4 linked regions of the Homo sapiens genome follow. The main gene of each other region encodes a partner of the protein of the gene in region 2 in a complex. Each region holds a gene or a part of one and is shown on either strand. Other genes may lie near its edges. A codon is read from its position in the direction of its gene.

What was found.
Region 1: GTF2F1 (region 2) and POLR2B share a complex: the UniProt entries of both Homo sapiens proteins name them as parts of the TBP-based Pol II pre-initiation complex.
Region 3: the proteins of GTF2F1 (region 2) and CTDP1 are in contact, whole or in part, in an NMR structure (PDB 1ONV), measured with the Homo sapiens proteins. Residues at the interface, in NP_002087.2 of Homo sapiens: Thr470 (codon at 2,119), Lys471 (codon at 2,116), Leu474 (codon at 2,107), Gln478 (codon at 2,095), Ser486 (codon at 2,071), Thr489 (codon at 2,062), Val490 (codon at 2,059), Leu493 (codon at 2,050), Ala494 (codon at 2,047), Leu497 (codon at 2,038), Lys498 (codon at 2,035), Leu500 (codon at 2,029), Asn501 (codon at 2,026), Pro502 (codon at 2,023), Arg504 (codon at 2,017), Met511 (codon at 1,996), Phe513 (codon at 1,990); in NP_004706.3 of Homo sapiens: Ala946, Asp947, Met949, Ala950, Lys951, Ala952, Leu953, Glu954, Glu956, Leu957, Asp959, Leu960, Met961.
Region 4: GTF2F1 (region 2) and GTF2A1 share a complex: the UniProt entries of both Homo sapiens proteins name them as parts of the TBP-based Pol II pre-initiation complex.

The regions. Positions count from the first base shown.
Region 1 is NC_000004.12:56,988,375-56,996,957, forward strand, and holds part of POLR2B (DNA-directed RNA polymerase II subunit RPB2), read left to right. Parts: intron 1-2,373; coding exon 2,374-2,524; intron 2,525-5,700; exon of another isoform or gene 5,701-5,796; intron 5,797-6,029; coding exon 6,030-6,142; intron 6,143-6,272; coding exon 6,273-6,492; intron 6,493-6,876; coding exon 6,877-7,035; intron 7,036-8,583. UniProt on the Homo sapiens protein: Catalytic core component of RNA polymerase II (Pol II), a DNA-dependent RNA polymerase which synthesizes mRNA precursors and many functional non-coding RNAs using the four ribonucleoside triphosphates as substrates.
Region 2 is NC_000019.10:6,378,309-6,383,984, forward strand, and holds the end of GTF2F1 (general transcription factor IIF subunit 1), read right to left. Parts: intron 5,188-5,676; coding exon 5,003-5,187; intron 3,543-5,002; coding exon 3,389-3,542; intron 3,308-3,388; coding exon 3,246-3,307; intron 3,171-3,245; coding exon 3,051-3,170; intron 2,888-3,050; coding exon 2,814-2,887; intron 2,735-2,813; coding exon 2,596-2,734; intron 2,383-2,595; coding exon 2,265-2,382; intron 2,178-2,264; coding exon 1,973-2,177; 3' UTR 1,264-1,972; downstream 1-1,263. UniProt on the Homo sapiens protein: TFIIF is a general transcription initiation factor that binds to RNA polymerase II and helps to recruit it to the initiation complex in collaboration with TFIIB. It promotes transcription elongation.
Region 3 is NC_000018.10:79,744,369-79,752,951, reverse strand, and holds part of CTDP1 (RNA polymerase II subunit A C-terminal domain phosphatase), read right to left. Parts: intron 1-8,583. UniProt on the Homo sapiens protein: Processively dephosphorylates 'Ser-2' and 'Ser-5' of the heptad repeats YSPTSPS in the C-terminal domain of the largest RNA polymerase II subunit. This promotes the activity of RNA polymerase II.
Region 4 is NC_000014.9:81,196,569-81,205,151, forward strand, and holds part of GTF2A1 (transcription initiation factor IIA subunit 1), read right to left. Parts: intron 7,537-8,583; coding exon 7,332-7,536; intron 6,267-7,331; exon of another isoform or gene 6,127-6,266; intron 5,091-6,126; coding exon 5,026-5,090; intron 917-5,025; coding exon 841-916; intron 1-840. UniProt on the Homo sapiens protein: TFIIA is a component of the transcription machinery of RNA polymerase II and plays an important role in transcriptional activation. TFIIA in a complex with TBP mediates transcriptional activity.

The sequences.
Region 1 (8,583 bases), on a different chromosome or scaffold from region 2:
AAAGTCTTGGCGAGGTGGCTCGCACCTGCCCGTAATCCCAACACTTTGGGAGGCTGAGGCCGGTGGATGACTTGAGCTCAGGAGTTTGAGACCAGCCTATGCAACATAGCCAGACCCTGTCTATCTCTTTTTTTTTTAAAGAAAGAAAAAAAGAGAAATCTGGCAAAAAGTCAGCTTTTCATTGTGCCTGAGGTGATGGTGACCTTTGATTCCATTTGTATTTAAACATCTGTATTCCCTGCCATAATATCTTTTGCCACCTATAGCTAGAATGAAGCATTGTCCTGGAGCCATTTAAGAGTAAACTTTTGTAAACACAAAAAATAAAACAAATTGGCTGTAGAAGACTAAACTTTACTGAGACAGTTACATCTTCTGTGATGTTTGGGTGTTAAACACCAAGAGATATTTTATTAGGAAACAATAACCAGGTAGATGTTCTGTGGAGTGTGCCTATATTCTACATTCTCCCGGTAGAAAAAATATTTTATCTTAGGTGAAAAGAAGTTGTTTTCAACATATGTGGTAGATTGCTCAAGGATAAAATACTCTATTGTGAACTGTCATAGCATTTATCATTTGTTACAAAATAAATTATTTGATTTTTAAGTTTAAATTGACTGTAGATACTTTGGCTATTGAGAAATGAATTTTGATTTTTTTTTACTTTTTAATATCAAGTGATCTTGTGAATGTGATATTAGTTAATATCACAAGTAACTTCATAAGATGACTTCAGGTAAAATAAACAGAGTAGAGATCATAAATATGAAATATTTATATAGTTTAGGTGTTTAAGCACCATTCTAATGATTTTGGGTAAAGTAGCTATAGTTCAGCTTCCTGGGGTAATGAAACTTATCTATAGTTTAGAAGCTATTCATCTTAAATTGCCTATAAAAAACCATGGCTATGTATATTACAGGCAATGCCATGTTTTTCTTACAATATCAATGGCTAATCCACATGGTTGTGAGAAATTTCTTTCCCATTATGTGACAGTCTCTACTGAAATAAATTGCCCCAACTGTTATTTAGGTCATACCTTACACATGTGTGATTGTCTGCTGTGTTTTCTACCATAGGACCTAACTTCTAATTTTGGTGGCCATACTTGACTGGATCAGGGTGGGGCCAATTTGTTGGCCTGTCACTGATGTGCGAGGTGACCTGATGAAGCCAAAATGGGAGGCTGATGATTAGTTGGACTCTGCATATTGTCTTAGAAAATTGATGTGAAGATGGGGGAGTCAGTAGTTGGGGAGTAGAAGCTAAGAAGGTCTCACAGATATAAGATGACAGAGGTCACAAGATATAGGAGTGGAGACGTGGAGGTGTGGTGGGGCACTTCCTACTGCTGAAGGGTGATGGGATAATCTTGAGGGTTGTGCTACATCCTCCAGCCTCTGTGATGCCCAGCTTTGCAGCTGTCCCTGGATGGTAATAGGGAGTGATCTGTTGAGATCCTCTTGCACGTGTATCTACTTGTCTCTGTATGTCTTTCCCCACCCCTCACCTGAAAAGTATCTGTTCCTTATAAATATGATGTCTGCTTTTTAGATTGCAGCTCTCTCAGCCATGCTGCATTTTTATCACCAGTCTTTTGCTGAGTATTTTTATGTAAAGACTTATTCTTCTTATCCTACCTTTAAGAATTCAAAATAGAACTAATGATCTATAACCTAAAGTTGGCATTCTCATGCATTATTTTAGTCATTAATATCACTACCCTCCGTCCTATTCAAATGAAAGTTCTTATTGTTATCTTTGACTTTTCTTTAGTTTTCTCTCCTGACATATTTGTCAAGAAGTACTTCAAAGAGGTGGAATAAAATTTGTCCATAAAGGGCATAAAGTTTTTTTTTTTCTTTGAGATAGGGTTTCGCTGTCTCCTAGGCTGGAGTGCAATGATGCAATCATGACTCAATGCAGCCTCAAACTCCTGGGCTCAAGTGATCCCCCTACCTCATCCTCTTGAATATGTGGGACTATAGGCACATGCCACCATGCCTGGCTAATTTTTTTCTTATTTGTTGAAATGAGGTCTCATTGCGTTGCCCAGGCTGAACTCAAGCAATCCTCCTGCCTTGGCCTCCCAGGAGCTGGGATCCTTATAGTTCTTATATTGTGCTTTAAGTATTTTACCCCCAAATATAAGCTGCTTTTCCCCAAATAATAAGTTCTACAAAGAAAATATGCCCGGTTTCATCCTTTTTAAGATACCTCATAGTGTCTTGTTTAGTGGTTGACATATAATGGTTGGTATTTTATGACTGTTTCTTGAATAATGAAAATGGGGAAATAATGAAAATGGGGAATTATGCTAGAAATTATCACTGAGTTGCAACTGACTGAACTCAAATATTTTCCCAGTTCCTATTTTGACGAGAAAGGCTTGGTTAGACAACAGCTGGATTCTTTTGATGAGTTTATTCAGATGTCTGTTCAAAGAATTGTGGAAGACGCTCCTCCTATAGACCTACAGGCTGAAGCTCAGCATGCTAGTGGAGAAGTTGAAGAACCGGTAAGATAGTTCTAATAGTTACACAGGTACAAGAAGCGTATTGGTTTGAAATTTTAGCCCTTCTCTTACCTGGCTTAAAGGTTAAAAAAAGTCAGTTGGAGCTTTTAGCAAAGTACTTACAGCACCGTCAATCACTTTCTGATTTATTTTCTCTAATGAAGAGGTGTGTTTTTTTGCAAGTTATCCCATCCTTATTCACATAGTAGGTATTGAATAGCTGGGAAGAGAGGACTCTGAAATATGAACAAATAAGAGAAGTGAGCCAGAGATGGTCACATTGCTTTAGATAGATAACCCCGCTTTTTTCTCTCACAGTGTAAAAATAATAAAAAATGTTTGAAGGAATTTTCATCTGATTTTATATATTGCATGAAGTACATTATTATAACCATATGAGATAAGAAAGGAAAATCACCCAAACATAGCAGCTATCTTTACTAAGTTTCTTGTAGCTTTTGCTCACATATATGCAGGTTTTTTAGCATTGTTAAAATCATACTAAGGGTATAATTTTATAATTTGGTTTTACATGAGTGATTATAAGAAGGATGTAGTCCAAAATAATGACTGTCCCAGTTTTAGAGAAGTTGAGAGGCAGCTGTTGGAACATATTGGACTTTGAGAGACAGGGAAAACTGAGAAACAAAGTGAGGTAGGGAAAGCCCCCAAAATAGAGCTAGACACAGGGAGAGTTCATTGTTTCTAGCCTGATCAGTTTCTCTTCTGTGTAGCTTATCTCCTAAGTGCTGGTCTGTTATTTCCATTTTAGTTGGACATGCTGTACAGAATTTTGCTGTTAAGAATGAAAGTGATTGGCTCTTCTAGGGCTGTGCTGGAAAGGGGGACATTAAGTTTCTTTTTTATTCTTGGGTCATTTTTTTCTTTTTTACAGGGTCTATAGGTGCCCACCACCATGCTTGGCTAATTTTTTTGTATTTTTAGTAGAGATGGTGTTTCACATGTTGGCCAGGCCGATCTCCAACTCCTGACCTCAAGTGATCCACCTGCTTCAGCCTCCCAGAGTGCTGAGATTATAGGCATGAGCCACTGCACCTGGCTTGTTGGGTCATTTTTTCTTCATGGTCTTTGTATAACAAGCCAGATAACAATATAACATAGCAAATTGAACGTGCCAGTAACAGAAGTACTAAAAGAGGAGTAGATCTCTAACACCTAGTTATCAGAGCTTAGTAGAAAAGATGGAAGAGACTTAAATTTACTATGAAGAACTCTCTTAGAAGAGAAAAGGTGCTTAGTCATTTCAGCAAGGAAATATTTGGTGTGGCCGGTGCGATGGCTCATGCCTATAATTTTAGCACTTTGGGAGGCCGAGGCGGGCAGATCACCTGAGCTCAAGAGTTTGAGACCAGCCTGGCCAATATGGTGAAACCCCGTCTCTACTAGTAAAGTACAAAAATTAGCCGGGTGTGGTGCCAGGCACCTGTAGTCCCAGCTACTAGGGAGGCTGAGACAGGAGAATTGCTTGAACGTGGGAGACGGAGGTTGCAGCGAGCTGAGATCACGCCACTGCACTCCAGCCTGGGCGAGAGGTCGAGACTCTGTCTCAAAAAAAAAAAAAAAAAAAAAAAAAAAAGAAAAGAAAATACTTGGTGTATTTAGGCTGGGGACCACAATGATCAGTATGTGATTTTGGCTTATCTATTTTTTTTTTTTTTTTTGAGACAGAGTCTCGCCCTGTTGGCCAGGCTGGAATGCAGTGGCGCGATCTCGGCTCACTGCAGGCTCCGCCTTCCGGGTTCACGCCATTCTCCTGCCTCAGCTTTTTGAGTTGCTGGGACTACAGGCGCCTGCCACCACGCCCGGCTATTATTTTTTTGTATTTTTAGTAGAGACAGGGTTTTGCCGTATTAGCCAGGATGGTCTCGATCTCCTGACCTCATGATCTGCCCTCCTTGGCCTCCCAAAGTGCTGGGATTACAGGGCTTCTCTATTTTTAATAGGCATTAGGAAGATAAGATGGAACCCGATTGTTGAAAGCTTTGAATGTCATTGGATGTTATGAGGAATTACTGAGAGACTGTCAAAGAATATACATAAAGCATTATTTTAGAAAAGTTACTTTGGAAAGTGATGCTTGCTTGGAATAGAAAGAGGCTAGAGGAGGCCAGATGTGGTGGCTCATGCCTGTAATCCCAGCACTTTGGGAGGCCTAGGCAGGCAGATCTCTTGAGGCCAGGAGTTTGAGACCATCCTGGCCAGCTTGGTGAAGCCCCATCTCTACCAAAAAATACAAAAATTAGCCGGGCCTGGTGGTGCGCCTGTAGTCCCAGCTACTTGGGAGGCTGAGGCAGGAGAATCACTTGAACCCAGGAGGTGGAGGCTGCAGTGAGCCGAGATCACGCCACTGCACTCCATCCTGGGTGACAGAGTGAGACCCTGTCTCAAACAAAACAAAACAAAATGAAACAAAACAAAAGAGACTGGAGGAGATAAAAATCTTAGAATAGCCTATGATTAAGATAATAATGACCTAGACTAGATGATGGCACAGATAAGGAGTAGAGGATTGGCTTCCCTTTGGTTCGTTATCACCACCGTTCTCTTTGCCCTTTATCCAGCCCAGCTTGGGAGACTTGAGTGTCAATAATTAATCATTAGTAAAACGTCTGCTTACTCCTGTTTTCTTCTCTGAGACTTGATTTAGAGAAAAGTACACTATCCATTTATCTCTAGAAAGTTGTCCTCATGGATCTTGTTTTATTAGGCAGCAAGTGAATGTTTAATTGAAAAATTTCTTTTTTTTTCTATGAACTAAGCTATATTCCAGCCAGAGTTGGAAATTCTCAGCCCTTTATATAGAATGATTAGGATATTTTGTGTGTTTTTTAAAATAAAAAAATCTTTTTCTTTTGTTAACTCTACTCCTTTGACAGATTAATTTGTATATTTAACTGAAGAGAGGTTTATTTTTTAAAATGTTCTATTGATTAGATTAGAGCATAGTTCTAGTTGTCTGGATTTGTTATCTTTGTTCTCTGGTCACTTTGTATTTTTGATGATGCTTACCAAGGAGAGGGCACAAGAAACTATGTAGATCATTAATGTAAATCCATTTTAACTGTTTCATATAAACTCAGAGCACATGATGTGTACAGTCTTTACTTTTAGTATATTAAGTCTCTTTTTGTCTTCTGCCTTAAGAAAGCAATTAGCAGATCCTTCTGTAGTTGATAAGTGTGTGATGATTGGGTGTGAGATGTGCCTTCCTTAAACCTTGTTACAAACCTTGTTAGCACATTACCTGTCTAATGTGAAAAAAAATTTTTAAGAAAAGAGGAAAAAAGAAAGTGATTTGGTTTAAAACTTAACGTCTATGCAATATGGATATTGACTTTGGGAAGTCCCCATTTCAGTAAAATGGATTAATTTTGCCAGTTTGTAGAGTTGCTTGTACTTAAAATGTTAATGTCAATTAAAATGGAATCACTAAAACTTTTATGGAAAAAATTATTTACCCTTTTCATGTTTTTTTGTTTAATTTCAGCCACGATATTTGCTGAAGTTTGAACAAATTTATCTTTCCAAGCCTACCCATTGGGAAAGAGATGGTGCTCCTTCACCAATGATGCCCAATGAAGCTAGATTAAGGAATCTCACGTAAGAAAGAATTTTTCCTTGTCAGCAGTAGATACTGAAATAGAATTTTGAAAATGTAATTTTAACCACTTGAGGATTTGTTTTAACAGATACCCTATTGCTTAACTGTGATCTACTTTTATTTTCAAAGGTATTCTGCTCCGCTTTATGTTGATATAACAAAAACAGTCATTAAAGAAGGTGAAGAACAACTTCAGACTCAGCATCAGAAAACTTTTATAGGAAAAATTCCAATTATGTTGCGGTCAACTTACTGCCTTTTGAATGGCTTGACAGATCGTGATCTTTGTGAGTTAAATGAATGCCCTTTGGATCCTGGTGGCTATTTCATTATTAATGGATCAGAAAAGGTATAGTAACATTATTTTAAAAAATTACAAAATGGTAGTTAAAATTTAGTTTAAAGTTGAAATGAAAAAAAAAAAAAAAAGAAAGAAAGATTTTCCTGCAGGATAACCTGGCACTGACAGTTGACTTGTTTAGGGTATGACAGCTAAACTTATATAAACCAAAGCTTTATTTAGCTGTATATAACATGCACTGGGAATTTGGTCAGTTTTGGAGTTTATGTATTTCTATGAAGCATTTATGCAAAATGGAGTTTGTAAAGTTGAAGAATTAAATATTTCAGTGAGCCTATATGGTCAGATTAAATTAAGATGCAGATTTTACTCTCTTTTCTCTTCAGTGATGTTTTGGATTTTATGGCTGTAACTTTCTTATTGTCCAAATAGGTTCTGATTGCCCAAGAGAAAATGGCAACAAACACAGTTTATGTGTTTGCCAAAAAGGATTCTAAATATGCCTACACAGGAGAGTGTAGATCATGTCTTGAGAATTCTTCCCGACCCACCAGTACTATATGGGTTAGCATGCTGGCAAGAGGAGGACAGGTATGGACTGGATATGATGCTATTTGGGTTTATTCCTTTGTGCTTTGTTTTAAAATTTACTAGACTGCCTTCTTTGTCCATAGAAGCTTTTCTGGAGCATATTGTTGTTATATATCGTATTGTTTACCTATCGCTGTGTAACAAATTACTCCTCTAGCAACATTTATCATCTCACGGCTTCTGTGAGTCAGGAATCTGGGTGTAGCTTAGCTGGGTCTTTTGGCCAAGCAACTCTCACAAGGCTGCAATCAGATGTTTCCCTGGGCTGCCGTAATCTCAAGAGTCATTCCCATGGTTGTCTGCAGGATTTAGTTCTTCATTGGCTGTTGGACTGAGTCCCAGGTCTTTGCTCGCTGTTGGCTGGAAGCCTTTCTTTGTTCCTTGCCATGTGGGCCTCTGCGTATAGCAGCTGACAGCAGCATAGCAGCTTGCTTCTTCAGAGAGAGTAAGCAAAAAGAGCCATAGAGAGTACGAGCAAGGTGGAAATCAGTCTTTTATAACTTAAAAGTGGTAGCAACATCCTGTCATTTTTGCCATGTTCTTTTTGTTGGTTGCAAGTCAGTATGTCCAGCTCACACTAAAGAGGGTATTACAAGGGCAATAGTAGGAGGCAGGAATCATTGGGTACCAGCTTAGAAGCTGCAGACCACTGGTATAGTTATAAGCATAGGTTGCTTATAATAATGGAACCTGGTAGTAGCTAGCAGTTCTTAAATATTTGCTGTATGCCAATTCTGTTACTCAGATTGCTTGATTTAATTTTTACAGCTATCTTGGAAAACCTCTATTTCAGTTCATGTGTGTGTGTGTGTGTGTGTGTGTGTGTGTGTATGTATATGTGTGTGTGTGTGTGTATATATATATATATATTTTTTTTTTTTTTTTTTTTTGAGACGGAGTCTTGCCCTGTCACCAGGCTGCAGTGCAGTGGCATGATCTCGGCTCAGTGCAAGCTCCGCCTCCTGGGTTCACGCCATTCTCCTGCCTCAGCCTCCCGAGTAGCTGGGACTACAGGCGCCCGCCACCGCGCCCGGCTAATTTTTTTTTTGTATTTTTAGTAGAGATGGGGTTTCACCGTGTTAGCCAGGATGGTCTCGATCTCCTGACCTCGTGATCCGCCCGCCTCGGCCTCCAAAAGTGCTGGGATTACAGGCGTGAGCCACTGTGCCCGGCCTTCAATTTTATTTAATAATTATGCATGTGTGGGATGCAATGTGATATTTTGATACGTGTATACAATGTGTAATGATCAAATTAGGGTACTTAGCATACCTGTCACCTCAAGAATGTTTTTCATAATATTTTATTTGTAAGATAAGCATTCTTCCCATGTGCACAACATTGCTGGGTATTGTTAAGAGATCATGAAAACACACAATCCTTATTGAGAAGGTGGCCAGGTGTGGTGGCTCATGCCTGTAATCCCAGCACTTTGGGAGGCTGAGGTGGGTGGATTGCTTGAGCCCGGGATGTGAGACCAGCCTGGGCAACATGGCAAAACACTTTCTCTAGCAAAACAACAACAACAAAAACCCAAAAATTAGCTGG
Region 2 (5,676 bases):
CAAGTTTCCAACCACCGGCAAGACAGAAGGGATTGCCCGGAAGATGGGTTCAAAAGTAGTGGCTGCAGGCAAATTCCATTTCCAGCCATATTAATGTTTCCAGCCACATTTTCCAGTTCCATTTCCAGGAACTGGAAAAGCCCTCCCTTACAGAATGCCTGGCAACGCCAGATCAAATATATGCATGACCGAGCTTGTAAGAAGGGAGAAGCCCCCCGAAACATCACCGGGAACCTCAAACATAGGGACCCACAATCGGGGCAGTGGGGGGGGTTGGCTTTGGTGGCCACCTGCAAGCTGAGAACCACACACAAAATGGGCTGGGGCTGGCGCTCCTGGGTAGCTAGCGAAAGCCAAGGCTGAACCATCTGGAAGGACTGCCTGCAAAGTAGGCCACCCCGGATTCCCACAGAGCCCCCAGCTGGCCATGAGCATCCAATCCCAAATCACAAGAAAATCTATCACTAAGGGGAGTCAGAAGAAACAAAAGGATGCCCGGGAACTTCAGCTTCTAGGATTGTCAGACCTCAGTCAGGATGAGTAAAATAAAAACATCAGCCAGGCGTGGGTGGGTGCAGTGGCTCACGCCTGTAATCCCAGTACTTTGGGAGGACGAGGCAGGCAGATCACCTATGGCCAGGAGTTCGAGACCAGCCTGGCCAACATGCTGAAACACCGTCTCTACTAAAAATACAAAAATTAGCCAGGCGCGGTGGCGGGCGCCCGTAATCCCAGCTACTCGGGAGGCTGAGGCAGGAGAACTGCTTGAGCCCAGGAACCAGAGGTCGCAGTAAGCCGAGATTGTACCACTGCACTCTAGCCTGGGCAACAAGAGTGAAACTCTGTCTCAAACAAAAACAAAAACAAAACACATTAGCCAGGCATTTAATGGTACACGCCTGTGGTCCCAGCTACTCAGGAGGCTGAGGTGGGAGGATTGCTTGAGCCCATGAGTTCAAGACTGACCTGGGCAATACAGTGAGACCTCACCTCTACAAAAAATTAAAAAATTAGCTGGGCGTGGTGGTGTGCACTACTTGAAAGGTTAAGGTGGGAGGATCGCTTCAGCCCAAGAGGTGGAGGTTGCAGGGAGCCAAGACGGTGGACACTGCAATCCAGCCTGGTGAACAGAGCAAGACCCTGTCTCAAAACCTAAAATATAAATAAAAATAAAACCATGAAAGATGGGACCAAAACATAAGGAATAAGACATTATCCAAACAGAGTAGCAGATCTAAAAAGGAAACAAAGAAATCTGAGCAATTTATTATTATTTTTTATTTATTGAGACAGAGTCTCACTGTCACCCAGGCTGGAGTGCAGTGGCGTGGTGTCAGCTCACAGCAACCTCCACCTCCCAGGTTCAAGTGAATCTCGTGCCTCAGCCTACGGAACAGCTGGGACAACAGGCTCCCGCCACCATGCCTGGCTACTTTTTTTTTTTTTTTGTGCCAGGATTTCATTCTGTCACCCAGGCTGGAATGCAGTGGCACCATCATAGTTCACTGCAGCCTTGAACTGGGCTTAGCCTCCCAAGTAGCTGGGACTGCAGGCGCTCACCATCATGCCCAGCCAAAACTGAAGACTTACTGGGCTATGTGGTGGATAAGTCACAGCTGAAGAGAGACTTAGGGAAGTGGAAGGGAGAACTGTAGAAGTTACCCAGTGGGCAGCACAGGCCCTTGGTCAGTGTGAGGGAGGCCGAGCCAGGAGGAGGAGGACAATAAGAAGGCCTAACAGGCATCTGAAGATTCCAGAAGGAAGGGCCAGAGGAGGAGATGGCTTAACTTTTCCAGAATTGCTAACTACGGGGCCCTGGGAGTCAGGGAGCAAGCAGGATGTCGAAGGGTCACTGAGAGCCTGAAGTTCTGGAGGGCAGAGCCATGTATTGGACAGAGCCTCACTCTAGGATGGCGAAGGGGCAGTGAGAGCCTTAAGTTCTGGGGGGCAGAGCCATGTATTGGACCAAGCCTCACTCCTTGAGGGAGAAGTGCATTTTGTCGTTGATCATCTTGCGCTCGGGGTTGAGTCGCTTGAGGATCTGGGCCAACACGTTCACTGTCTGCTCGCTGCTCAGCCCTGTCTTCTTGGTCTGGAACTTTTTCAGCAGGTCCTTAGTGGTCATGGGCTTCCGTGTCAGGTAGCGGCGCACGGCATCCTCAGTCACCTGCACGTCGCTGAGGATGGGAGGACGGGGAAGGTGGCATCAGTGAGATTGTCCCCAGTAGCCCTTGCCCTGCCCCCTGCTGTCCTCGTCAACTTACCCGCTGTTGGGTGTTGTCTTGCCTGATGGTGGCTGGGGTGTCGACTTCCCAGACAGGCTCTGGGGTCCCGTGTCCAGCCGCAACCGCTTGGCTGCAGGCATCTCGCTCACCCGCTTCCCTGTGGGAGTGGGGTCAGGGCTGAGTCTTGCAGGCAGGAGGCAGAACCCCTGGGCAGGACCCCAGGCTGGGCAGTGCCAGGATTAGGGTTCAAGGGGATCAGGGAGAGACAGGCCTCCACCCGCATCTCCATCCCCTCTCTGTCCTGAGCCCCAACAGAGGTCAGGAGGCTGTGGCTGTGGCTGTGGGGAGCGGGGAGGCCACGGGCACTCACCTTGCTCGAGTTTGCTGGCAGCCGCCCGCAGGGTGGAGGAGGTGCTGCCACCCTCTGCGCTGGGCGTGCCTGGGCGGCTGTTGCCCCTTGAGCTCCCTCCCGACGGCTTCCGCTCTCTCTTGGGTGGCGTCTTCTTCTTCTGCAGAGGTCAGGGTTGGGAGGTGGGTGAGTCTGCAAACAGACGCCCAGGCCTCCCCCGCCACCGGGCTGGGCCTTACCGCCATGAAGAGGGCTGAGGAGGCCTCGCTGTCAATGTCGCTCTCCTCTGAGCTGTCCGACTCCTCGCTGCTGTCTGCGGGGCACAGGAAAGGGGTCAGGGCCAGAGCAACCCCGGGACCCGGTGCCCACTGGTGCCTCCACTGCAGATGAGGGAGGCCTGCAGGGGAGAGGGGAGGAGGTGGCAGGGCGCCAGGGCCCGACCCAAGCCTCCAATATGGGGGCCACATGCGCCGCACCTTTCCTGCGCTTCTTCTCCTGCGGGGTGGGTGCCTTCTTCTCCTCCTCCTCCTCCTTGTCCTCCTCAGGCGGCTTCTCCTCCTCACTCTCCTCACTACTGTCGCTCTGCTCATCGACACCTGGGAGGGGCAGGGTATGAGCAAGAGCAGGGAAGCACCGCCCCCATCTCCCCGGCCCGCCCAGCCATCGCCTACCCTTGGGCCCCTCCTCCTGCTGCGGCGCCTTGGCCTTGCTCTCAGGCTCTTCTTGGGAGCTACTGTAAGACGGGGATGGCAAAGGATGAGCGCGCGCTCGCGAGGCTGCATGGGGTCTCGCAGGCGCCTCCCGTCGGCCTCACCTGGAGCCGTCTGACATGTAGTCCACCTCTTGGCCCTCGAAGTCCCCATCATCGCTGTCCTCGAAGGCCTCGTCGTCTGAACCCTTCTTCTTCTTCTTTTTCCTGCCGCCCTTGGCCAGCGGCGCCTTCTTCTTGGCCTTGGGGACTCTGCCCCCTGGGAAGGGAGGAAAGGAAGGAAAGGAGGGAAAGTGAGGAGGAAGGCAGTGGGTATTTATTGTGTTTTTCACATTTTGTGCAGTTTTGACATCCTGGGGGGCCTCACTGACTGGGGAGACTACACCTCCAGGGCCAGCCCAGGAGCTCAGCTCTCCTAAACAAACTCCCGGCAGACCCCACACCCCCACCCACCTTCTCTAGCGCTCACAGACCACTCCCCCTCTCCCAGACCACCCGGGCGAGGCACCTGATAACCAGGGACACAGCCCCTACAGCCCGGAGCGCACAGGAGTTATTGAAACTGGTCAACCTAGAGTTGCAGTTTCTCATAGGAACCCCCGTAAAGGCCACAGCCAGGCCAGGTGCAGTGGCTCATGCCTGTCATCCCAGCACTTTGGCAGGCTGAGGCGGGAGGATGGCTTGAGCCCAGGAGTTTCAGACCATCCTGGGCAACACAGTGAGTGAGACCCCAGTCTCTACAAAAAACACAAAAATTAGGCCGGGCGTGGTGGCTCACGCCTGTAATCCCAGCACTTTAGGAGGCCGAGACAGGCAGATTACCTGAGGTCGGGAGTTTGAGACCAGTCTGGCCAACATGGTGAAACCCCATCTCTACTAAAAATACAAAAATTAGCCAGCATGGTGGTGCATGCCTGTAGTCCCAGCTACTTGGGAGGCTGAGGCAGGAGAATCACTTGAACCTGGGAGGCAGAGGTTGCAGTGAGCCGAGATTGCGCCATTGCACTCCAGCCTGGGCAACAGAGCAAGACTCTGTCTCCAAAAAAAAAAAAAAAAATTAGCCGGGTGTGGTGGTGCACGCCTGTAGTCCCAGCTACTCAGGAGGCTGAGGTGGGAGGATCGTTTGACCCTCGGAGGTCAAGGCTGCAGTAAGCTGTGATTGTACCACTACACTCCAGCCCATGTGAGAGAGAGAGAGATCCTGTCTCAAAAAAAAAAAAAAAAAAAAGAAGGGCCATGGCTCAGCTCTCCCGGGCTCTGGCCTTGCCTCCTGACTGACATCACTGCTCCTCCAGGCGGCCTCGCCTGACTCTCATTCTTTTTTCTCTGAGACGGAGTCTCTCTCTGTTGCCCAGGCTGGAGTCCAGTGGCGTGATCTCGGCTCAACACAACCTCTATCTCACGGGTTCAAGCAATTCTCCTGCCTCAGTCTCCCGAGTAGCTGGCACTAGAGGCATGCACCACCATGCCCAGCTAATTTTTGTGTTTTCAGTAGAGACACGGTCTCACTGTGTTGGCCAGGCTGGTCTCAAACTCCTGATCTCAGGTGATCTGCCTGCCTCAGCCTCTCAAAGTGCTGGGATGACAGGCGTGAGCCACTGTGCCCGGCCCCACTTGCCTCTCATTCTAGGGCCACTGTGAGCGATGGTAGACTTTGCCTTCACTGGCACTGCCTGAGCAGGCACCTCTGTGACCTAATGCCCAGGCGCCCGTACTCACCCTCCTCACCACTGGCATCACTGGCATCGGACGACATCTCCAGGTCGTCCTCCAGGTCGTGGATGCGCAGCTCGCTCGCCTTCCTGCGGCCACGTTTCTCCTTCTCCTCCTCATCCTCGTCCTGGTCCTGATCCTTGAGCCGCCGCTGCTGCATGATGCTGAAGTGGTTCAGCACCTTGTTCCTCCTGCGGGCCAGGCACAGGGGGGCTCATGCCGGGCCTGGCACCACCCTGCATCTGTGCTTGCAGGGGGCGAGCCCCAGGGCACCACCCACATAGCCTTCAAGGTGATGTGGCCCCCGGGGACTTGGGCTGTGGCACAGGACTCCCTGAAACCACACGGATAGAGCCAGCCCTTCCTGCCTTCCCGTTCTGCCCCGAGTCCCTCAAAGAGCAGGTCCCCATGTGCTGCTGGAGTCTCAGCACCTCCCTCGGACTCAGAGTCTGGCCCCAATCCAGTCACACTGGTTTCTTGCTATTTTTTATTATTATTTTTTTATTTTCTGAGACAGAGTATCGCTCTGTCGCCCAGACTGGAGTGCAGTGATGTGATCTCGGCTCACTGCAACCTCCGCCTCCTGGCTTCAAGCAATTCTCCTGACTCAGCCTCCCAGATAGCCGGGGTTCCAGGCGCCTGCCACCACGCCCAGCTAATTTTTTTTTTTTTTTGTATTT
Region 3 (8,583 bases), on a different chromosome or scaffold from region 2:
CCACTAGGCTTTCCTTACGAGCCTCTGCATAACCAGCCGGTGCCACTAGGCTTTCCTTACGAGCCTCTGCATAACCAGCCGGTGCCACTAGGCTTTCCTTAGGAGCCTCTGCATAACCAGCCGGTGCCACTAGGCTTTCCTTACGAGCCTCTGCATAACCAGCCGGTGCCACTAGGCTTTCCTTAGGAGCCTCTGCATAACCAGCGGGTGCCACTAGGCTTTCCTTAGGAGCCTCTGCATAACCAGCCGGTGCCACTAGGCTTTCCTTACGAGCCTCTGCATAACCAGCCGGTGCCACTAGGCTTTCCTTACGAGCCTCTGCATAACCAGCCGGTGCCACTAGGCTTTCCTTACGAGCCTCTGCATAACCAGCCGGTGCCACTAGGCTTTCCTTAGGAGCCTCTGCATAACCAGCCGGTGCCACTAGGCTTTCCTTACGAGCCTCTGCATAACCAGCCGGTGCCACTAGGCTTTCCTTAGGAGCCTCTGCATAACCAGCGGGTGCCACTAGGCTTTCCTTACGAGCCTCTGCATAACCAGCCGGTGCCACTAGGCTTTCCTTACGAGCCTCTGCATAACCAGCGGGTGCCACTAGGCTTTCCTTAGGAGCCTCTGCATAACCAGCCGGTGCCACTAGGCTTTCCTTAGGAGCCTCTGCATAACCAGCCGGTGCCACTAGGCTTTCCTTAGGAGCCTCTGCATAACCAGCCGGTGCCACTAGGCTTTCCTTACGAGCCTCTGCATAACCAGCCAGTGCCACTAGGTTTTCCTTAGGAGCCGCTGCAGGTGCACCTGGTTTCTGTGACGTGAGCCGACTTGATCGGGGCACACCCAGGAGATCCCCAGAGCCCTGAAATTCCAACCACCTGATGTCCTGCCAGACACCCTCCCTCCTGGTGCCGTGCTGGGACGTCCCACTGCGCCAAGGAACCTCAGCTACAACCTTAGAGGTGGAAGCCTGGTTAAATGTGCACAGCCTGTTTTGATTTTACCCTGATTAGGGGCAACTGAGCCATACTAGCCTTCAGTTACAATCCCGAAAAGTCACTGAGAGAAACTAGGGACAGTCACCATATGTGAGTACCCTAAGAATATTTTCTTAGCTAACGTAGATACAATGTAGCTAACATACACACCTATGTGACACATTATGTGTGATACAGCCACACACACACACAGCAGGCATATAACACACATGCACTCGAGGCTCACACACAAACTATAGCACGGTAATGTGATACACCTGCACGCACACACAGCACGCATGTAACACACATGCACTCGAGGCTAATATACACAAACTATAGCGCAGAAATAACTTGAAACCATTCTTGCTGGTATTAGAAGAATCACAGTTCATTTATAAGAGACAAAAGGAATAAAATCAGCTGATCAGATGGAACCAACAGAAGACAAGAGAACCCCGTGGGCTGGCACACACAGCCGATCAGTCACGACAAGCTCGTTCAGAGAACCCAACTGTTCGTGGTCCAGGAAATACCGCATGAGAGAAACACAAGGGCCCCAGAACTCCAAGTCCTGTCCAGGTGGCAGGCACTGGGCCGTAGGATGACAGCCCCTCCCCCGCTCCCTCCTTCCCTCCTGGACCTGCCTCTGTGCCCAGCCCCTCCCTCCCTGGCCTGCCCTCTGTGTGCCCAGCCCCTCCTTCCCTGGCCTGCCCTGTGTGCCCAGCCTCCCTCCCTCCCCGGCCTGTCCTCTGCGCCCAGCCCCTCCCTCCCTAGCCTGTCTTCTGTGCCCAGCCCCTCCCTCCCAAGCCTGCCCTCTGTACCCAGCCCCTCCCTCCCCGGCCTGCCTCTGAGTCCAGCCCCTCCCTCCCTGGCCTGCCCTCTGTGTGCCCAGCCTCCCTCCCTCCCTGACCTGCCCTCTGTGTGCCCAGCCTCCCTCCCTCCCTGACCTGCCCTCGGCGCCCAGTGCCTCCTTCCCCAGCCTGTCCTCTGTGCCCAGCCCCTCCCTCCCAAGCCTGCCCTCTGTACCCAGCCCCTCCCTCCCCGGCCTGCCTCTGAGTCCAGCCCGCTCTGTAAGATGGGAACTGCCATCTTTCATCACATACTGGGACCCCTGGATCCATGAGATCCTTTCTTAAAAAGCAATGCATCCCATCATTTAAAAGCGGAGTAGGCAGGGCGTGGCGGCTCACACCTGTAATACCAGCACTTTGGGAGGCCAAGTCAGGCGGATCACCTGAGGTCAGGAGTTCAAGACCAGCCTGACCAACATGGTGAAACCCCATCTCCACATTAAAAAAAAAAAAAAAAAAAAAAAGCAAAAAATTAGCCAGGTGTGGTGGTGGGCACCTGTAGTCCCAGCTACTCGGGAAGCCGGGGCACGAGAATTGTTTGAACCCGGGAGGCGGAAGTTGCAGTGAGCTGAGATCACGCCACTGCACTCCAGCCTGGGTGACAGAGCGAGACTCTGTCTCGGGGGGGAAAAAAAAAGGCAGAGTAGCGGGAAGTGCACGCCCTAATACCTGCCGTCCAAGTTTTAAACGAATTTATTTTTATGTCAACTGGAATGAATATTTTCTACTGAGAAATAAAGGCTTACTTTTAATTGCTACATGAGAGTGAGGGGTTGCAAATTAGCTGGGAGTGTCGGTGCATGCCTGGAGTCCCAGCTATTTGGGAGGCTGAGGAAAAAGGATCCTCTGAGCCCAGGAAATGGAGGCTGCAGTGAGCCTGGGCCATGACCGCAACACTGCACTCCAGCCTGGGCGACAGAGCAAGACCCTGTCTTAAAAAAAAAAAATCTCCGCGCACCTTTTCTGTGCACCTGCTTCCCCTCTGCACACCTCGTCTGCAGATCTTGTGCCCGTGCCTGTGTTGGGCTGGGCACCGCCCGCTTCCCCTCCATGCCTCATCTGCAGATCTTGTGCCCGTGCCTGTGTTGGGCTGGGCACCGCCTGCTGTTTGCTTTGAGGACGCCAGGCGTATCATACACGAGTTTCCTTTATTTCCAGTCTCTGCTGACACTAACGACGCTGTCAGGGCCACGAGTCTGGCCTCCGGTTGCTACAGCAACAAGCTTTTGGCAATTAACAAATTCATCAGTCATCTCTTTTCCTCCGCATACACGCTGACGGCTGTTCCGGGAAAACCCGGCTCCCATCCTCCCATTAGGCTTCCTCCACCTCACTCCGTTTTGAGAACTTGAAACAAAACAAGACAGAGACAGTTCTCGTAAACGTGAAGGTGCTGCCGTGAGGGGTGTCCCGAACCCCTGGAAGAGCTCAACCCACTGGCAGGTGGACGGGACAGGAGACCCTTGCGAACAGAGGCGGTGTTTCAGGCCCCCAGAGCAGTGCATGGCGCTGACCTCGGGGAGGGGGCAGTCATGACTGTGAACAGGAGAGCCGAAGTGCCCTCTCAGGTCGAGCTCGGGACGGTCACCAAGTCCAGGAGGGGGCGGGCCTGGATCTCGTGTGCACGGGGCGCGACCCTCACAGTCTGGTGCCCGGCTCCCTGCCTGTGTGCTGATGCCTTGCTCAAGGGAGCCCTGGCCCCTCCTAGTGGGGCCAGACTCGGGGGTGCTGGCAGGTGTGGTTGACTCCCTCACAGCGACGCTGGGTTGGACGTATCAGGGGCACTGAGCAGAGCAGGGGCAGGGGCAGGGGCCCCGACCGAAAGTGAAGACGGGGCAGACGAGAGCCAGGCGGGACCCTGGGGCAAGCAGGGAGAGGAGGGGGAGGGCGAGAGGTGCAAGAACCAGTTCCAACAATTCTTTTCTTTCTAAAATCAAGCGAGGAAGCCATCCGTGGCAGAGTTCTAATGGCAGCAAGAGGATGGCAAAGAATGGGAAATGCCAGCTGTGACTCTCTGTTTGAGGTTTAGAAATATGTTCCCCTCACAAGGCCGACAAAAACACCCAGAGTGCTGTTGACAGCAGGACACACCTTCAGAAACGCCAGCATAACTTGGCAGGGTGCCACAGGACCTGAACCGAGCCCACGGAAGGGACCACCTCAGCTCCCGCTGGAGAGCCCTGTGCACATGCACCAACACGGCTCACACACAGACACGGCTCACACACAGACACGGCAAACACACAGACACGGCAAACACACAGAACGGCTCACACACAGACACGGCTCATGTGCAGTCACGGCTCCCAGGCAGACACGGCTCCCAGGCAGTCACGGCTCACACACAGACATGATAATGATGACTCTAAAGGCCTCTGATCATGACTCTGTCGCTGTTGTGTGAGATGAGGCGGCCGCAGGCGCTCATGGCATTCGCTGGGAACAGTTTCTTGTGGATCCACAGCTGGGGACGCTGTGGTCTGGGGCTGTGCTAAGTGCTTCTTCCTTAGATTTTCACAAGAAACCTGCGGGCAGGCGCCACCATCCCCATCTCACAGCAGGGGCCTGGACCTCACGATGCTGGTAAGAATGCTGAGAAACGTCCTCCACGCACTTTGGAAAAACGTAGCTGACTCGGGAGACAGGGTCAGGGCTTCCATGAGGCTGAGTGTCTGGGACCAGGTCAACGGCTTCCACCCTGAGGGGTCACAGAGCCCGGGCTGGGGCGGCCCTCCCTCCATGGGTCCCCCCAGGCCCTGCGCGGTCCCTCCTGGTGCTGCGAATGCTGCACCCTCGGTCTCGCTCCGTGATGAAGTACAGGGAGCGCCTCACTAAGGTGGCACAAAACCTTTGCTCTTAGTTAAACGATGTTTGGAGCATGGGATTTAAAAATACGAGATGAATGGACTTTAGTCATTAAAAATTACCTCGAACATTAGACACAGCTGCAGACTATGGTTAGTAAATGTCCGCAACTGATACTAGCTTCACTTCCTCAGCATAACATGCAATATTTGTATTTTGTTCATACAACCAGCTGCACAGCTCCATAGAGAAATGTTAACAGATAGAATTTGGGGAAAATTTACAGCTTTAACATTTATCTCAAATTCAACATTGAATAAGGCAAGAATACAAACAGAATAATATATATGTATACCCCACCCCCATATTTCAGTTTTCCAAACACACTGGGCTGTCACAGTGCACACGATTTGGCACCGGAAAGATATCCGTCAGTGCGGCAAATGCACAATTGTGTCACACCAGCATCTAATCCAAAGGGGATGGAACAATCCACAGGCACAGGGTTCCCGTGGCCACTGCCAGCGTGGCCGCGGGAACAAAAGGGAAGACCAGTGCTGCTCACCGTGAGGCCGCCACGTCACTAAAAAACCCGTGCCGGCGTGGCCAGGTCTGCACGCACCGGACACCTGCAGGAGGCGCTGCGCATGGCGGATAATTTCCCCAGTGCACCCTGGAGTGGAACGTGGCGTGAGAGCGGCGTTGGGGCTGCCCAAAGCAGGTGAAGCCTCACACAAGCGTGGGGGGCTCCGCGGGGACCTGGAAGGAACCCACCAGATGACGTCAGCGGGACCCAACAGTCCAACCACCTACAACACAGGGCTGGGCTCTGCCAAGGAAAGCAGGCGGCAAGAGCTGGTCTGCTGCTGAGAGTGGGCCCGGGCCCAGGGAGAGCCAGCGGTGCCCTCCCTCCGTGGCGTCTGCACCTGAGTCCCAGTTCCCGCAGGGCCCCAGCGGGGATGCCACAGCTCTGGGTGTGAACATTGTCATGCTCTCCTCAGCAATCTCATGGCATTAGAATGAACCTGTGTGTGTTACAGGTGGAAGAGGGGCAGGGGCCCTTCCCAGCAGGGAGCTGGCCGGGCGCTCACCACACCTGACCCTCCCCTCCGAGAGCCTGCTGCCAGGCCGGGGCTCTTTAAAGTGGGAAGTTCAGTGACCTATTTTAGGGTAAGAATTGCTGCTTCGTGTATTGGTATGAAAGGACTGGAAAAAAATTAATGTCTCTCATTTAAAATTGGGCAATCATTAAAAAACACTATTTGATTCAGCAGCTTTGTACCCAAATTCTAAACTGCAGGCACCAGAGTGGCTGGCAGCACACGGTCAAGTCACGCGACCAGGAGCCTTTAGCCCTGTGCACCAAGGACCACTTTAACACCCCTAGGCACGGTAGGCACAGTGGGCACGGTGTTCACACCTGTAGGTCCAGCACTTTGGGAGGCTGAGGCGGGAGGATCGCTGGAGGCCAGGAGTTTGAGGCCAGGCTGGTCTCAATGGGCAACAAAGGAAGTCCCCATCTCTACAAAAAAATTTTAAAAACATTAGCCAGGCATGGTGGTGCGCACCTGTGGTCCTACCTACTTGGAAGGTTGAGGCGGGACGATCCCTTGAGCCCAGGAGTTCAAGCTTCCAGTGAGCCATGATCGTGCCACTGCACTCCAGCCCAGGCAACAGAGTGAGACCTTGTTTCTTAAGCCCCTAAGTATGGGGTGGGCAAGGCAGGGCCTCCTGACCTGTTCACAGTGACAGCAGTTGTCAAAACGCTCTCACTTTTCCAAGAGATGCAGTTTGTGTAGCTATGAAAACACGAAAAAGCAAACTTTCACAAACCAAAACTCCGCGTGCTATGTGAAGGGAGAACGAACACAACCTCCACCTCCGACACCCTCGAGTGGCAAACCCTGAAGAGACCGCAGAGTCAGAACACGCATGGGAGGGACGCACGGACAGAACGCGCATGGGAGGGACGCAGGGTCAGAACGCGCACGGGAGGGACGCGGGGACAGAACGCGCACGGGAGGGACGCAGGGACAGAACGCGCACGGGAGGGACGCGGGCACAGAACGCGCACGGGAGGGACGCGGGGTCAGAACGCGCACGGGAGGGACGCGGGGACAGAACCCGCACGGGAGGGACGCGGGGACAGAACGCGCACGGGAGGGACGCGGGGACAGAACGCGCACGGGAGGGACGCGGGGACAGAACGCGCACGGGAGGGACGCGGGGACAGAACGCGCACGGGAGGGACGCGGGCACAGAACGCGCACGGGAGGGACGCGGGCACAGAACGCGCACGGGAGGGACGCGGGCACAGAACGCGCACGGGAGGGACGCGGGCACAGAACGCGCACGGGAGGGACGCGGGCACAGAACGCGCACGGGAGGGACGCGGGCACAGAACGCGCACGGGAGGGACGCGGGGACAGAACGCGCACGGGAGGGACGCGGGGACAGAACCCGCACGGGAGGGACGCGGGGACAGAACGCGCACGGGAGGGACGCGGGGACAGAACGCGCACGGGAGGGACGCGGGGACAGAACGCGCACGGGAGGGACGCGGGGACAGAACGCGCACGGGAGGGACGCGGGCACAGAACGCGCACGGGAGGGACGCGGGCACAGAACGCGCACGGGAGGGACGCGGGCACAGAACGCGCACGGGAGGGACGCGGGCACAGAACGCGCACGGGAGGGACGCGGGCACAGAACGCGCACGGGAGGGACGCGGGCACAGAACGCGCACGGGAGGGACGCGGGGACAGAACGCGCACGGGAGGGACGCGGGGACAGAACCCGCACGGGAGGGACGCGGGGACAGAACGCGCACGGGAGGGACGCGGGGACAGAACGCGCACGGGAGGGACGCGGGGACAGAACGCGCACGGGAGGGACGCGGGGACAGAACGCGCACGGGAGGGACGCGGGGACAGAACGCGCACGGGAGGGACGCGGGCACAGAACGCGCACGGGAGGGACGCGGGCACAGAACGCGCACGGGAGGGACGCAGGGACAGAACGCGCACGGGAGGGACGCAGGGACAGAACGCGCACGGGAGGGACGCAGGGACAGAACGCGCATGGGAGGGACGCACAATCCAGTCAAACACGTATGTGTGCTGACCACTCATCTTCCCCACAAAAATTATCCATGCCACAGTCATTACAACTGCTTTGGAAAAGCCTGAAACTCACATGAACTTACATGTCGTGGGGACACCTCCTAATCCCAGGAGCACCTTCTGATTCCCCACCCCACTCTCAGGACCCACAAGTCTTTCCCATGGAGTGGCCTGGTACCCCTGCTGAGAGCCAGCTGGCCATGGACATGGGGCTGTTCTGGGATGGACACTCCTGCTCCACGGCCCAGCACACTGTCATCACACCAGCCTCCGTTACTCTGAAGCACGATGTGCGTCCTCTGGCCTGCTCTTCCTCAAGACCCTCCAGGGTCTCCTGCGTTCCTGTAAGAGCTTCAGGACTGGTCTGTGGCCCCTCCAGGGGCAGCATCCTCCCACGACGCCCCCCATGACTGAGTGGCGGGGGAACCTCCAAGGTCTCGCCATGGCCGCCTCTCCCTTTGCTTGTCAGTTTCTGCCACTGGTGAGTTGGTTCTCACTTCCGGTGCACATGTGCTAGCAACTGTCACTCTTCCCGATGGATCCAGCTCTTAGCATCGTAATTCCATCCGTTATCATTATAAAGCGTCCTTCTTTACCTGTAGAAGCATTCTTTGTTTAAATTCAGTCTTCTCTGATATTAGCGGAACACTCCAGCTTTCCTACGGTGATGGCCTCTGACCCAGTTGTCCATCCACTCATAGTTAAAGCTCTGAATCCCCTCACGTTCACACCGCCACTCTGCTTTGTTTCTCATGCCTCATGTAGTTTTAGTTCCTGTCTTCCCTTTTCTGTTTTCTTTTGCATTAAGTGAATACTGTCTAATGTAACATTTTGGTT
Region 4 (8,583 bases), on a different chromosome or scaffold from region 2:
TAAGATCAGACACTTCGGGAGCTGTTCATTTTTAAAGCTTTAAAGGAACAAAAGCTTAATAGCTCATTTAATATCTTGAACCAAACAAAGCACCAAAGAACTTTGCTTCAAAATTGGTAAAAGCAATAAAAGTTCACAGAACCAGTTATCATCATTGTCATACAATTCACACAGAATCAAATTCCCCCAATATGTTCCTTTAGACAACCCAGAATCTTGAATTGATTAAAAAGCAAATTACATCTTATTAAAATATGTAGCAAGACAAGCCCCTAATTTCACAAATTTACAAATTAACAAAAATAACATACACAGAATAGAAAATAAATAATAACTATATAATCAAGATTATAGGGAACACTTAAAATCCATGTAAATAAATTTTTCAAGCACCAATATGCCAAAACACATGAGCTAGACATTGGTCTTTTGTCAATGAAGAGATACTATGTATAATAATAGCATACAATAAATTTGCTCTTAATATGCTCTAGGAATTACTTTGATATCACAAGTTCAAAGAAGTTTAATACTCACTTGGCATGTTAAATGTGTTCAGTAAAAAACTAAGTAAGCATTTTTATATAATCATACTTCAATAATAGGGTTATCATGCACAGATCAAAGGTTCAAGTACAATTTTCATCTTCTTTACTGTATCCTCAACAACGATTACAGTTATATGTGTTACAGCCCTCAAATAAAGTTATTTTAATAACCTAAACCAAATGGTAAAAGAAATATTAGTATTTTCTGTCTTTCAAAGAAGACAAAACCTAAGGGCTAGATAGTACAATTTTCTGAATTACATTTTAAAATGGTTCCATCATTCCTAATTACCTGAATTTGTTAATATCTGCTGAACAGGAGTCACACCTGCAGGGAGTGCTAAGGTAGCAGCTGTAGCAGCAGCACTCTGAAAAAAACAAAGAAAAAATATCAAAACCACATACATGTATAATACTGTTTCTCTCTAGCATATTTTAATAGTGTATGAAACTTTTTGTTTAGAATATACCAAAATTTAAAAAATCTAGTAAGGCTAAATCCCATTTTATAAAATGGTACAAGACTGACCAACCTAGCCTCCAACCTACTAAATTATTTTAAGCAGTTAAATACAACAATATAATTGGGTTTTTTCCCCTAGAGAAGGTGCTCTAAGTAAATCTCACAGGTACTGCAGTTTTTTTTTCCTTCTTGTCCCATCAATCTTCTTTAAGGTACCAAGCCTTCCTATACTCAATCTAACCTACACATTTTTAGACAATACCCACATTAACAATGCTGTACAATATATGAAATGGCTATTTCATTATTGCTTCCTTTCCCACTGTTTCCTTATCCCCATTTCCTTGAGATAAAAGTATAATTATCTACTTTTTAGAATTCTTAACTTTTAAAATTTCTACTAAAATCAACAGATATCTATAAAGAACACTGTATCAGAAGACTTCACTGGGAGTACAGCTGACAATTCTTCTAAGATGTCATATTAGCAAAGAAAAAAGGGACATACTGGCATTATATTCTAGGTGAAACATGCATTAATAACAGATTAATACAAAAAATCTGTAAATCTTAAGAAAAGTCACACCAGGCAGACTGGCTCACGCCTGTAATCCCAGCACTTTAGGAGGCCCACGTGGGCAGATCGCTTGAGCTCAGGAGTTTGAGACCAGCCTGGGCAATATGGTGAAATCCCATTTCTACAAAAAATACAAAAATTAGCTGAGCAGGGTGGTGCACACCTGTAGTCCCAGCTACTTGGGAGGGTGAGGTGGGAGGATGGCTTGAACCTGAAGGTGGAGGTTGCAGTGAGCCGAGATTGTGCCACTGCACTCCAGCCTGGGCAATAGTCACAAACTTTAGTTTCAACATTTTGAAATCAAGTTAGTATGTGACACTTAAGTTATAAAGATATAGACGGGATTATATTATGAATTTCTTTAAATCCAGGACAAATTCTTGACTTCCTGGAGAGTTCTGGAGAGTTTTCTCCTCCTGTCCTCCCGCAAAGAATTATGCCATTCTCTGGTTTTTTATTCTGCACTTTAAGTATTTTCCTGTATCCCGCTATAGCTACACATTTTGGTAGTTTTTTCCCTCTCTTTTCAATCTTCTTTAGCTACCAACCATTCATACATTCAATCTAACCTATACAGTTTTAGAACTACCCATATCTGAAAAAGCTTAAAAAAATAAATATAACTGCTTTGGAAATGCTAGTGTCAGAGAAGTCAACAAACTTAGAAAATTATTAAACTGAGTTAATAGTTCAACTACTGTCTAGTCTGGGCTCTAGGTACATAGCTTTCCAAGAAAATACACTTGTTGCCACTTGACAAACCTAAGTAATTTCTACATCTTGGGCCTGAAATTCCCACTGTGTCTCCAGAATTTAACTATAGCCCACCCGGGTGATTCGTATTTAAGTTGGATACTCAATTACCCAATTTAAAATAAAACTTGGCTATATAAGCAAATTAAAGGTTATCTAAGTTTAAGGAAAATATTAACCACCACATACTATTAAGAAATATTTAAAAAGAAAAAAACAAAAATATTTAGAAATATTAAGTGCCTATAATTCATATTTTGAAAGACAGCAATTCTCCCTCTACCAGCAAACTGACATAGTAGTTTCCATATAGAATACACGACCCAATAACTACCTGCACACCCTCCACAAATTCAAGCTGCATAACATATATTTGCTGAGTCATGTACCATACACTAACCACCTTATACTTAATAACTATTAAAATTTCTTCTTGTATTCCACAAAACAGCCCAAACACAAATAATGCATTAGACCAATCATTTCATAAAAAAGAACCGAAAACAATGGTTTTCTAGAAGTTCCCTGAAATAGCCTTCTACTATATTATCTCACGTTTTTATGATTAGTTCATTTCTAATGCAAACAGAGCCATTAGAAAGAACAAATATATTTTTGCTATTTCTAAATCAGAATAATGCAAACCCACAAAAACCTAAAACACTTTTATTGGTACAGAGCCTATACTGATTATGTTCAGAAATACATGAAGGAAACACTGACTAAAAACAACAAAGTAAAATGTAAAATATACAGAAATGTTAAATCAATTTTCCTGAGTAACTGACCTATGATTTGTTTAAATACATATGCTCTTTAGAATAAAGGAGACTTAACCAGTAAGTAAGAGATGGACCACTAATTTTTATCCCAGAAATAACTTACTAATTCAAAATTCTCTTCCACAACATTTAAAATTCTTTTAGAGGGGCCTACCACAAGAGACTCTGCCAAAATTTGTTTTAAAATAATGTGAGTTATTCCCTAGGATATAGTCTTAATAACATCAACTACAATAAGCAACATATAGTGAGACTTTTTTTTTTTTAAGGGTGGAGGTTAAAAAAAATTGGGGCCTTAGACTTAAAATGGAGTTTTTTCCAATAAAAAATCTTGTGAGAAATAACAGGCATGAAATTTTTTATTTTCATGTAAACGAAAAGATTCTAGAAACTGCAACTACAAGTACAAACAGAGATCCTCGATATTTGTGAATTTAAAAACTGCAATTTCTACTATCATGTAGAAACTTTCAATTCTGCCACAGTATGAATTTGTGAGGCTGGTAATGTGTAGGAGGAAGTCATCTGTCTAGTGGGTAAGCCCTTCTTATCTGGCTTATAAACCACAAATGAACTTTGTGATTCAGTATCACTCACAAAGTAGAACTCATCTTTTCATACACTGCTTTTTGGTTTAAAAAAAAACTTGAGGCTGGGCGTGGTGGCTCACACCTGTAATCCTAACACTTCAGGAGGCCGAGGTGGGCAGATCGCTTGAGGTGAGGAGTTGGGCGACCAGCCTGGCCAACATGGTGAAACCCTGTCTCTACTAAAAGTACAAAAAAATTAGCCAGGTGTGGTGACATACACCTGTACTCCCAGCTACTCAGGAGGCTGAGGTGGGAGGATCACTTGAACCTAGGAGGCGGAGGTTGCAGTTAGCCAAGATCACACCACTGCACTCCAGCCTGGGTGACAGGGTAAGACTCCATCTTCAAAAAAAAAAAAAAACTTGAACGGAGGGAAAAAAAAATCTCATTTCTAGTACTAACTAGTTACATAGGTTAAAAGATCTTTTTACAAATATTGATTCTTTCACCTTTAAATAAAAGTTTTGGCTGAAGAATGAAATGTAAGAGCTGAGTCACCACTCAATGAAATCAACAGTCTGTATATTTTAAACAGAATAAAGAAAAACCATTTATAAGGAAGTATTGAACTACTCTAATCTGACTATATTTTAATGTTTTATCCAAAAAAAAAAAAAAAACAAAAAACAACTTCAAGGATATAGGTAAAGATTTTCTAAGGATCTGAAGAGGTTCTTTCAAGTTTACAGTTAACCTATACTACATTTGTTGAGAAATATTATATGTCTGAAATGTAATTTGAAAATATGAGTGAGGACTTGTAAAGTTTAGTGGATAGTCCTCAGAAATATAAAAATTCTAATATAACTCAGCTGGTTAAAATGTATTCTGTGGTAATTTACACACTATAATGACTTATTAGACTATACTATGGTTAAGTCAGAGTAATATTTTTAAATGCTTGATTTTAAAAATAGTTATACTGAACTATCCAGTCTATCTTCATTTTTTAAAAGTTCACAATTCTTAGCCTTCCCACCCTCTTGCAATTACTAGGTCTCCTGAAACAGAACCATACTTGGCATTATAAGCTTGGTAGGTACCCTAAAACTTTTTCGGAAATAGTAGGGAATGGAATAACTCTCACAAAGCACCATTCTTTTGGTATTCTTAAACAATTCCGTAATTTTATGAACCTTAATGTCTAGGTACCAAGCTAAACTTCAGATCCAATATTCAGGAAACTAAAACAGCTGTTTTGCTTGAGTCTTCAATAAACTTCAAGTAGTTAATATAGGACATATATAGGCATAATTACAATGTGGGTTAGAATTAAGTACAGCCAATCAAACTGCTACATTCTGAGTCTTACCATGTTTGATGCATTCATATGCTGTATCAACTTAGAATCTGGAACAATAACTTGTGGTGCTGTGGCTACAAAAAAACAAGCGAACATGCAAACAAGGAACCATGAGGCTATTTTATAATCACAAGAACACTTTACATACAATGATGAAAACTTTTTTCATGTTTTTCATGTTTTCTGCACTCAAATGCTTTCAATCATTTCATCTCAGGACATTATAAATGTATATGGCAAATAACAGCTGTGATATACCCACCCTATACTAGAAAACATTAAAAAATATTTAAGCCCAGGCGTGGTGGCTCACACCTGTAATTACAGCACTTTGGGAGGCCAAGGCGGGTGGATCACTTGAGGTCAGGAGTTCAAGACCAGACTGGCCAATATGGTGAAACCCCATCTCTACTAAAAATACAAAAAAATTAGTTGGGTGTCAGGCTGAGGCATGAGAATCACTTGAACTCCGGAACTGGAGGTTGCAGTAAGCTGAGATCACGCCACTGCACTCTAACATGGGTGACAAGGTTCCATATCAAAAAAAAAAAATTAAGTGGCAATTCCTAAGGATGCAAGGGAATTTAGGAACATGAAGTAGTGAGTTACCTTAACATCTAAACATAAATAGTTCTATGCATTCTTAAGTAAACTGGACATTTTCAAACATAATTTTGTCTTAACTCAAGGTTAACTGTTTTACTGATACAATGATACCACTGTTACAATGAGTTACTAATCCAATAAAAGTAAGCTCAAAAAGTTGTGACTAGTTTTTGAAATCTACATAGTCCTTTTCTTCCAAATATGACAGCTGACAGACTCATGCCACTTTCATCAGCTGTTTAAAAAATACAAATCAGCCGGGTGCAGGGATGCATGCCTGTAGTCCCAGCAACTCAGGAGGCTAAGGTGGGAGGATCACTTGAGCCCAGGAGTTCTGGGCTGTATGTGCTATGCTGATCAGGTGTCCAAATAAGTTCGGCATCAATATGGTGGCCTCCTGAAAGCAGGGGACCACCAGGTTGCCTGAAGAGTGGTAAACCGGCAAAAGTCGGAAAAAATACAAATCAGAAATAATGGCAATGTTACTTAAGCGTAAAAGGAATTACATGTTTGATTCCGCAAATTTCAGAGAACAGATAACTCCATTATCCTAATATTCTCTGAGTGAAGAAAATCAAATTTTAATTTATGATGACCTAAAATCCTAATGCCAGGTCTGAAGGCAACAGGAAGAACAGTCATCAAAAAAGAATAAAAGGATAAAATTATTTGATACAAAGTACACATTAAAATTAGGTATGAAAAGTACCACTAGATATCAACAGTAAAATAACCCAAATACTCTTCTACTGTGTGTCATTACCAATTTTAAGACACATATATATACTGTCAAATGAGGCAAATGAGTAACTAAATGATATTAAAATGAACTTTTCATTTACTTCTAGTGTCCTCTCCCATAAAAGCAGATGCACTGAATTAGAATGCTCAGGAAGTTTTATAACTGAATAGATGTTTGTCATGAGAGAAAATACAGATCAAGTTTCTTAGCCTTTTCTGGGCTCAGATTTTCCTCAGCTGTAAAACTGAGCCAAGGGCTATTTTACAAAGCCCTTATAAGATGCCAGTGAAACAGTATCTATAAAATGACTTGCAGAGTACAAGGCACTATGGACACAGTCTATGAATATTTGCTTTTTCTTAGCTTTAATCCAAGTAATATAAATTAAGATATGTTATATATCCACTCTTAACTTAAAATAAATCTAATTCAGTCCATTTAGGCTTACATAAATTCCTATGGAGCTGAATTTTCAGATTGCCAAAGTATACAAAAAACTCCAGAATGTAAGATATATTTTAAAAACTAATCTGAAACATGTCTTTGAAAGAACATGTTTTATAGAGAAAGCAAATAACTATTGTACCATATAAAATAATAAATCCCTTAGTAAATAAACCTTTTAGATTTAACTTAGGAAATCCATCACTATATAGCCTTTTCAAAACAAAATATTAATATAACTTCTCTGAATATCTTAGGCTTTCAATTAGTAAATTACTTGTCTACCATTACTCTACAGATACAACCTACATTGTATACAAATTTATATACATTTACATACACATCCCTCAGCCAAGAGAAAGGGGGGAAAAAGCCCGAAATCAACAGAGGGGTTTTTGTTTATTTTTAGGTTCTCCATGTGCCCCTTAAAAGACAAGATCCAAAAAATGCAGAATATTTCTCTTCTTTCATAATGACAAACTTAATTTCCAAGTCATAAGTAGGAAAACAAGTCCAGTCTCACCTTGCTGTGATGCAGGAATAAGAACCTGCTGGGTCTGCGCTTGCTGAGGTACTGTCTGCTGAGGCTGAGCTTGCTGATGATGGTGATGGTGGTGATGCTGCTGCTGCTGGGGTTGATGCTGCTGTTGAACTTGCAGTAGAAGCTGCTGCTCTTCTGAATGAAATCCATCTACTGCCCTGGACTGCATTAGTTTGTTTTCCCATAACTAAGGCAAAGAACATTAAAGATTTCTAAGTGAAAAATAACTCTGGACAGATGAATACAACAGTTTTATTAATCTCTTTATAAAGTTATTCCATTTTAAAAACTGATACAGACACAGAAATACAACAAATCTGTAATTCTAACCCAAGTGAAACAATAACAAAAACAAAATTTTAAAGTATCAAACCTCATTTTTGCCACATCAGAGTACTGAAGATTTTGTTTCTTTTTTTTATCTTCCAATGAACTTTCTATAGTAATTCCTTAATCAGCAGTTATTATTAAGCGATGAGTTTCATACAAGCAACTTCTTTAGTAATCAAAGATTATCCTTTATAATAGCAAAACCATTACTAAACTATTTTTATATGGAACTTTTTCCTTATAAAAATAGAAAATACAAAATTTTCTGCAACATATAAAACATAAATTCTTAAATAACATACAAAACATAAATTCATTTACAACAGTGAGATACATAGATGCAATCCCCCAAAGAAGAAAAGCCTAACTTTCCATCTGTCCAATCCTACATAAAGAAAAAGAACCGGCAACGCCCGAAGGTCTTAGTAGTTATCCCAACTCTCCACACTTCTTGAAATGTCCTTCCTTCTTCCATTACGCCAATTGACAATCCTTTTCTGTTTAGCCATTTCTATTTTCTCATTTCACCTTAGGTTCTATGATGGGAAAAATCATAATGGACAAAAAGAAAGAAAAGAAAAGAAAACATGTGCAACGATTTCATTCTTCTACCTAACACATTTCCTCTCTACCAGGTTTAGTGTTCAATCTAGAGCCTTTACCTTTTAAGAAACTGGCCAAAAAGTCACAAACTATTCCCTGAAAATACAGATAAAACTTCATTTGGTCATTCTGTACACAAGGATCTACACATACTTTGTCTTCTCCTCCAGGATTTGCTCTTGGCATATTGCCTAATTGACCTGAAGCTTCTATCAGATCCTTCAAGAACTTCCCTTTGCCATACTCACAGAGAGTTTCTTTATTTTTTTATTTTTTTTTTTAATTTAAGAAATAGTGACAA